Linked DNA regions of Homo sapiens. The protein of the gene in region 1 purifies or fractionates together with the protein of each later gene. This does not show direct contact. Each region holds a gene or a part of one and is shown in the gene's direction. Other genes may lie near its edges.

What was found.
Region 2: the proteins of ECHDC2 (region 1) and TOP3A purify together in Homo sapiens (affinity purification with mass spectrometry; 3 studies listed by BioGRID and IntAct, with this or other methods). This does not show direct contact.

Annotation. Positions count from the first base shown.
Region 1 is NC_000001.11:52,911,741-52,915,240, reverse strand, and holds part of ECHDC2 (enoyl-CoA hydratase domain-containing protein 2, mitochondrial), read left to right. Parts: exon of another isoform or gene 1-3,450; coding exon 3,451-3,500.
Region 2 is NC_000017.11:18,312,195-18,316,341, reverse strand, and holds the start of TOP3A (DNA topoisomerase 3-alpha), read left to right. Parts: upstream 1-1,347; 5' UTR 1,348-1,563; coding exon 1,564-1,743; intron 1,744-4,147. Other genes in the region: guanine nucleotide exchange protein SMCR8, read right to left, coding at 1-552. UniProt on the Homo sapiens protein: Releases the supercoiling and torsional tension of DNA introduced during the DNA replication and transcription by transiently cleaving and rejoining one strand of the DNA duplex.

The DNA of each region.
Region 1 (3,500 bases):
GATTGGGAAACACTCCTCTGGGCACCTGCTGGATTTCAGCCCTGGGAAGACCTGAAATGTCCATCCTGATTTTTCGTAGGAGGAGAAACAGCCTAGAAGGGATGATAAGGGTGTGAGCTCCTTCCCAGAGCCCATCTCTCTTCCCCACACCCTGACTAGATGGCGGGGGTGAATTGGGGCCAGAGTGGGTGCAAGAGTCAGATTGGGGGGGCCTTATGGTCGGTATTAAGGAGTTGAACTTTATTTTGAGGAAAAGAAGGGGGAAGGGGAGGGACGTGGTCGGATTGGGGTAAGAAAGATGACTGTGACCCAAATGTGGGAACGAATGTGTGTGTGCTGGGAGGGAGCAAGACTGAGGACTCGAGGGCCAGGTGGGTGATCCGAGGGATGCAGGAAAGAGCCTATGCCAGATTAATGGCTGTGAGAAGCGGTGTGAGCTGAGAGGCCTGAGATCTCTTTAAGAGGTTGGATTAGCAGGCCTTAGTGACTGAGTGCATTTTGTAGGTGAGGTAAGAGCGAGGTGACAGGATCAACTTCTGAGTTGATAGCAAGGTCATTGGCTCATCAATGGAGCAGGACATACCAGTTGAGATATCAAGTAGGCATTTGGCTATTCAGGCCTGGGGTGCACAGGAGAGCTCTGGGCTCCTGGGCACACACGGGAGCCCTGGGTGTACAGGAGGCAGGCGTGTGTTAGCTGTGGAAGGGAGGTCCCTCCTGCCTCAGCTTATCCTGCTCTCCCTCTGCCTGAACTCCTCCAGTTCTGGAAGGCACCCTGCAGTCCCACACCTGGGCCCTCTTCTCTGCCACTCCCTCTGCCTGCAACAGGCTTCTCTCCTGGACTGCCCCCTTCCCTGCACCTTGCCAACATGCATGCACACACACAGGCACTCATGCACACGCTCACATATGCACCCATGCATGCACACTTACATGCACACATGCACTCTTACATCTTTTGCCTGGCCAATTCCTACTCTCCTGTCAGCTCTCAGCTTAAAGGCCACTGCCTCCTCTGATAACTCATTGCTGACCTTCTATACTAGGGCTCCCCTCTGCCCACTGGAGGCCCCTTACTTGTTTGTCCTTTTTCTCCAAGTTCTCCTCACAAATAGTAATTATTTAATGTCTGTCTTCCCCACTAGGCTGTAGGTTCCATGAGGACAGGCCTTGAGTCTGTCCTGGTCTCTGGAATCACGGTGTCTAGTAGAGGCCAGCACACAGCAAATATATAAATGTACAAATGAGTGAATGAAGAGAATCTGATTGGCCTTAAGGAACTTACGCACTTAAAATAATTGGGCAGAAGAGAAGCAGTGAAGGAGTGCAGAGGCATCACCTGAAAGGTAGGAGGAAGGAGAATGGGGGCCTGCCAAAGCCAAGGCAGATACGTGTCATTATGCATCTGTGTAAACCCACAGAGTGTACACCACCAAGAGCGAACCCCAGTGTACACTAGGGCCCCCGGGTGGCGACAGTGCATCAGTGTAGGTTCGTCAGTTGCAACACGTGCCTCTGGTGGGGGATGGGGATTGCGGAAGGGGCTGTGCCTGTGTAGGGCCAGGGAGTATAGGTGAACTGTATTGAATTGTATTTTCCACTCCATTTTGCTGTGACCCTAAAACTGCTCTAAGAAAATCATCTATTTATAAACAAATAAATATTCTTCTAAGAAGCCAAAGCAGAAAACGATCAAGTGGAGTGTGTTAATGTCAGCAAAGGTTTTTGCTGCCACGAGGTTGAGGCAAGGAGAGAAACGTGTCCCTTGGTTAGTGATGTGGCTATATTCATCACTTTAATGAGAATAATGTCTGCTGAGTGATGGGGCTGGAACCTAGATTGGAGAAGGTTTGAGCGAATGGAAGGTAAGAAAGTGACTAAATGAGTATAGAAAACTACCAAGAAGCTTGGCTGTTGCTGGTGAAAGAATATTACACAAGTAGGGCCAGGATTACTGTCTTGCCAAACAGGACAGAACACTAAGCCTCTGTATTTAGTTGCTAATTTATTGTGACAGAGGAGCATATTGATCTGTCCCCGTGATTGTGCAGTTAGCAAAACCCAGGCTTTGAGAAACCCTGTAGGTCAAATACCCCAGGCTCCTCCACAGATAATCTCTGAGGGAAAGACAGAGTTGTGGGGAGCATGTGGGGGTTGTACCAGGATTTAAAAGATACACGGCAATTTTAGAAATTAGCAAGTCTAAACTATGATACCTAAGGATGCACACCTGGGTGATAAAATTATAAAGAAATGGCCGGGTGTGGTGGCTCACACCTGTAATCCCAGCACTTTTAGAGGCCGAGGTGGGTGGATCACCTGAGGTCAGGAGTTCGAGACAAGCCTGACCAACATGGAGAAACCTCATCTCTACTAAAAATACAAAATTAGCCGGGCGTGGTGGCACATGCTGTAATCCCAGCTACTCCGGAGGCTGAGGCAGGAGAATCGCTTGAACCTGGGAGGCGGAGGTTGTGGTGAGCCAAGGTAACAAGAGTGAAACTCTGTCTCAAAAAAAAAAATTATAAAGAAATACACAGAGGTGATTACTATAAGTCAAAGAGTTACTTGTTCAGGGGGAAGGAGGGAGCTACGATTGAGTCAGGGCATGTGGTGGGGTTTCTGAGGTGGCCGGCACAGTTCTATTTCTTGATTTGGGTGGTGGTTATAAGGGTATTTGCCTTATCATAACTCCTCAAACTCTAGAGGAAGAAGTCTGCTGTGAAGAAAAGATTAAGGCCGCGGTGGCTCAAACCTGTAATCCCAGCACTTTGGGAGGCCGAGGCGGGCAGATTGCTCGAGCTCAGGAGTTTGAGACCAGGCTGGGCAAGATGGCAAAACCTCGTTCCTACAAAAAGCACAAAAATTAGCCAGGTGTAATGGCGCATGCTTATAGTCCCAGCTATTTTGGGGGTTGAGGGAGGAGAATTGCTTGAGCCCAGGAGGTTGAGGCTACAGTGAGCCATGTTTACACCACTGTACACCAGCCTGGGTGACAGAGTTGAGACCCTGTCTAAAAAAAAAAAAAAAACAGCAAAACTCTCCCCCGCCAAAAATAAAAAAAAAAAAGATGAATATGGAGGGAGTTGTAAAATTAAAGAAGGTACATGGGTGCATGTGTGCTTGTGTGTGTGTGTGTCTGTCTGTCTAACAACAGCAGAAGCAGGCAAGGGCTACTGTGGTAGTCACTGTTGTTCCTCTCCCCATTTTGCTTCACAGTTTACAAGTCCTTCCACTTTCTCTCTGAGGCAGAAAGAGCAAGGGTTTTTCTCTCCATTTTATGGTTGGGAAAATTGAGGCCTGCCTGAGTGTGTGACTTGTGGCAAGTCACTCTGGTCATCTAGGGCAGAGGCTCCCCAGATCCCAGGCCTCCTGCCTCCAGTCCCCAGCCCGCAGCCCAGGATTAGGCAGAGCCAGCTGCTTTCCCGTGGCTGCCCTGACTCCTTACAGGGATCACTGAGATTCTGATGAACAGACCTTCTGCCCGCAATGCCTTGGGG
Region 2 (4,147 bases), on another chromosome or scaffold:
CTTCAAGCACTCAGAAGCTCTGGAAAATTCGGCTGAAAGCTCCTGGAACTGCTGCATGATTTTATGCTGGTCTGCAGAGATATAAGCCATGCAAAACGGCCTCACGAAGCCACGGGCCTCCAGGTCGTATAGGGTAAGGTGGTGCACGTATGCAAAGGCGCCCTCCTTAGAATCTCCCAGCACCACCTTGGAGTCCTCCACGAAGTTCAGCTTGGGGTAGGCAGATCCAGGAGGATGGCCCACGAAGGAAGCCTGGTAATCCACAGACATGATACGCAGGGAGAAGTAATTGAGATCAAAAGTGCCAAAAACTTTGGTGTCATTGGGGATGGTCAGTAAGGGTTGGGGTCCCACCTGCTCAGAGAACTCGGAAATAAGAATGAAGTCCCTCGAAAACTTGGCCCCGGACAGTTTTGACCAGGGGTTAGCACCCTGACTGGCGAAGGGGAAGAGCGGCACCGAGTACTCCTCAGGCAGGGCCGGCTCATTGTAAGGCTCTTCTTCATACTCTTCCTCTTTGGTGAAGGCCACTACGTCAGGGGCGCTGATCATATTTCCAGATATATGAAGAAAACATTGAGAGGAAGTGGGAAAGAATGCGGTGTTAATCGACGCGCAGAAGGCAGGCCTCCGGAGAAGGAAGTGAAGCCCTTACGGCCTTCTTTGCGACTCCCCGAACCCGGGGTCCTAGGCTGCTTCTCACACACCCGAGGAGAAGAACTCTAGCAGCCCCCTCACAGTTGTAGCTCCTCCGGAGCTCTCTGAGGCCTCATGAACGCCAAGGCCGCAGGCCCAACTGCCCTTCTCTTCTTCGTCCGGCGAGCGCGGCCAGCACAAGAAACCTGCTGCGAAATCACCTGCACTCTCCGGAACCCACTGCGACAGCAAAAGCCCCCGCTCTGAACAAGGCTTAACGCGAGGCTACGGGACGCCGCAGGGGTCAGCCAAGCGCTGCTGCCCCTCACTGCCCGAGGGCAGAAACCGTCGCGGCTCCTAGGACGCCACAACCCGGATCCTGCTACCGCGGCGCCGCCATCTTGACATCACATGACTCCTGGTGTCCGCGCCGCGTGACCCGGAAGCGTCCTCGTAGACTTCCGAGCAGGAGATTAAAAAGTCATGAGAAAGAGGCCTTGGATGGGAGTGTCTGGCGGCTCCCCGCAAGAAGGAGTCCGATTAACCAACCACTGCCGGGAAGGAGGGGAAAGAGGGGCGGAGTGAGACGGGGGCGGCGGGAAGGTGGCAGAGGGGAACGTGCTTGGACGAGGGGCGCGGGACAGTCTGGGAGTTGTAGTTCCAGGTCGCTGTGGGGCGCGCGCCTGGCGGAAGTAGCTGGAGAAGGCGGGCGGAAGTTCCACGCCAAGATACTGGATTCGGTGCTGAGGCGGCGGCTGCGGCACGGGAAAGGCTCAGTGACTGAAGCTCCAAAGGCCAGCAGGCTGGTGGGGACGTGACCGAAGCGAGGCTCTGGTTCCCTTTCGGTGGGCGCCATTTGAGCCTCATCTCTGGCTTCCCCAGGATGCGCCGGCAGCCGGGGAGCGGCTCCGGGCGCGAGGTCTGAGGATGATCTTTCCTGTCGCCCGCTACGCGCTCCGGTGGCTGCGACGGCCCGAAGACCGTGCCTTTTCCCGCGCCGCCATGGAGATGGCCCTCCGAGGCGTGCGGAAAGTCCTCTGTGTGGCCGAAAAAAACGACGCGGCCAAGGGGATCGCCGACCTGCTGTCAAACGGTCGCATGAGGCGGGTAAGAAAGCGCGTTCCGATCAGCTGCGTGCCTTAAGGGAGGCCCACCGAGCGGGACAGCGTGGTGGGCGCCAAGAATCGAGATGAAGGCGATTATCTCCCATTTCTCAGGCCTCACTGCCCCTCGTCTGGATTATTGCAGTGGCCTCCTGTCTGCTCTCGGACTGGAGTGCATTTTAAAACGTAGTTGATACATCTCACTCATTTGCGTGGAAACCTTTTGTTTTGCTTGCGCTTAGCAGGTTCCCAAACTTGTCTGATTCTCGGAATCGCCTCGGGCGCTGGCTGCCCTTCGGGTCTTGTGTGAGGCTGGGGAAGTGTGTATTTTACTGTTTTTCCCTAGAGATTCAGAAATTCATTTGGGAACTACTGACCAGATTCCCTTAACTTGGCATTCAAGCCCTGCCCGATCGTTCCCCAGCCAACCTAGCCCTCCCCATCCTGTGCCACAGCCACTGCATTCTACAGCCCTTGTGACTTTCCAGCCTCACAGTGCACACTTACAGCAACACGGTAAGGTTTGGGGATTAGATTTGAAGTCAGCCCTGTTCCTACCCGAATGAACTGATTCTGAGAGAGGTAAGTGGTAAGAATGTGTTCTACACACACGGGAGGCACAAACGCAAGGGAGGATAAGAAAAAGTTTCATAAAGGAGGTGCCACGGGAGACATAAAGAGCTGTCCAGGAAAATATCTCAGATAACAAAAGTAGATCCTGAAATGGTTTTCTGGAGAACTTTTCTAAGAGCATGGGTGGAAGTTCCCTGCTCATTTTTCTTTAGTTCCCAGGGTCCTAAGACCTGTTTCCAGATCAAGGATAGTGGGAGTGGAGCCAGGGTTGTGTGAATGCTGGCTGACAGCTTTACCTGTTTCCAGTGCTAGAAGTCCTGGTGACCAGCCCCAAGGTTTGTCTACTTCTAGACAATGAAGTAGACATTGAAAAATGGTTCTCCTACGCCTAACTTCTTATCCTTCAAGGCTCTGCTGAATTCATTCTCTCTCTCTCCCTTTTTTTTTTTTTTTTTTAAGCAATCCAGAGGTCTTGTATTTATCTATTTTTACCCTATCATACCATGAATCCATAGGGAATAGGTTCCAGCGGCTCAGGCTCTTTTCCATTGGTTCTCACAAAGTGTACTTCCCTCAATGGAACAGGCTGGCACTTCAGGTGAACCCTTTCTCTTTGACTTGCTTCTTTTTTGATCATTTTCCTTCACACATTTCAGGAAAGATCTTGGTTCTTAGAGTGCTTAATATGCTCAATAGAAACATTAATTCTTTGGGCAAGAATCTAGCCCTTGTTCGCAGCAGTGCCAACAGCATGCTGGGTAACATAGACTTTTCCAGTTCTGCCATGTAACATTTGTGGGTCATTCCCTTTTGAACAGTATGCATTCTCACGAAGTCCTCAATATCACCTTCATTGTAGATTCTGGTGTCTGTGGCCAGAGAAACTCCATATTTTTGTTTTGTTTTGTTTGTTTGTTTTGAGATGGAGCTTTGCTCTTGTTGCCCAGCCTGGAGTGCAATGGTGTGATCTCAGCTCACTGCAACCTCCGCCTCCCGGGTTCAAGCGATTCTCCTGCCTCAGCCTCCCTAGTAGCTGGGATTACAGGTGCCTGTCACCATGCCCAGCTAATTTTTTGTATTTTTAGTAGTTTCACTGTGTTGGCCAGGATGGTCTTGAACTCCTGACTTCAGGTGAGCCACCCGCCTTAGCCTCCCAAAGTGTTAGGGTTACAGGCGTGAGCCACCGTGCCCAGCTCGAACTCCATGTTTTCTATAAGGCCAGGAGAACATACATCAGATGCCTCGTCCTCTTTTCCTTTGTGTTCGTCATTTTGGCAAATTACTCCAAGATGGCAGTTCCAGCCAAAAGGAAAGACTTTTCTTGGAAAGAGAATTTTTATTTTTATGTACAGAAAACACAACAGTGTGTACTTAACCCAGTTTAGTGGCAAATTCTTTAGCCTTTGCCTTTTCTAGGTTGGTAATGCAAGCTACAGATTTTGGACCCAGGGCATTGCCTCCCCAGTGACAGCAGATCTCATATGTCGTTGTAATTTGTCCCACCAGCTTAGCCAGAGCTCCTTTGTCTACCAGAAAGTTAACCTTTGTGAAGGTGACAGTGGTGCAGGTCTTCCTGTGGAATTTGACACCACAGTCTTGACGGTGCAGTAGAGAATCCCCATCTTAGGACACAGCACAGGCAGGAAGACAACCAGCTCAATGGGATCCACCACCAGCTGACCCTTCATGCTCTCTACCAAGTTGGTGACGGTGTCAACCCCTGCTCGAAGTGTAGGTGGTCTCTTAGTAGCGACATCCCCTTTGCTGGAAGCTTTCTTCTCAGCCTGGGCCAACGGTTTCGATCTCATCCCTTGCTCTGTCTCTTGTCTGTACTG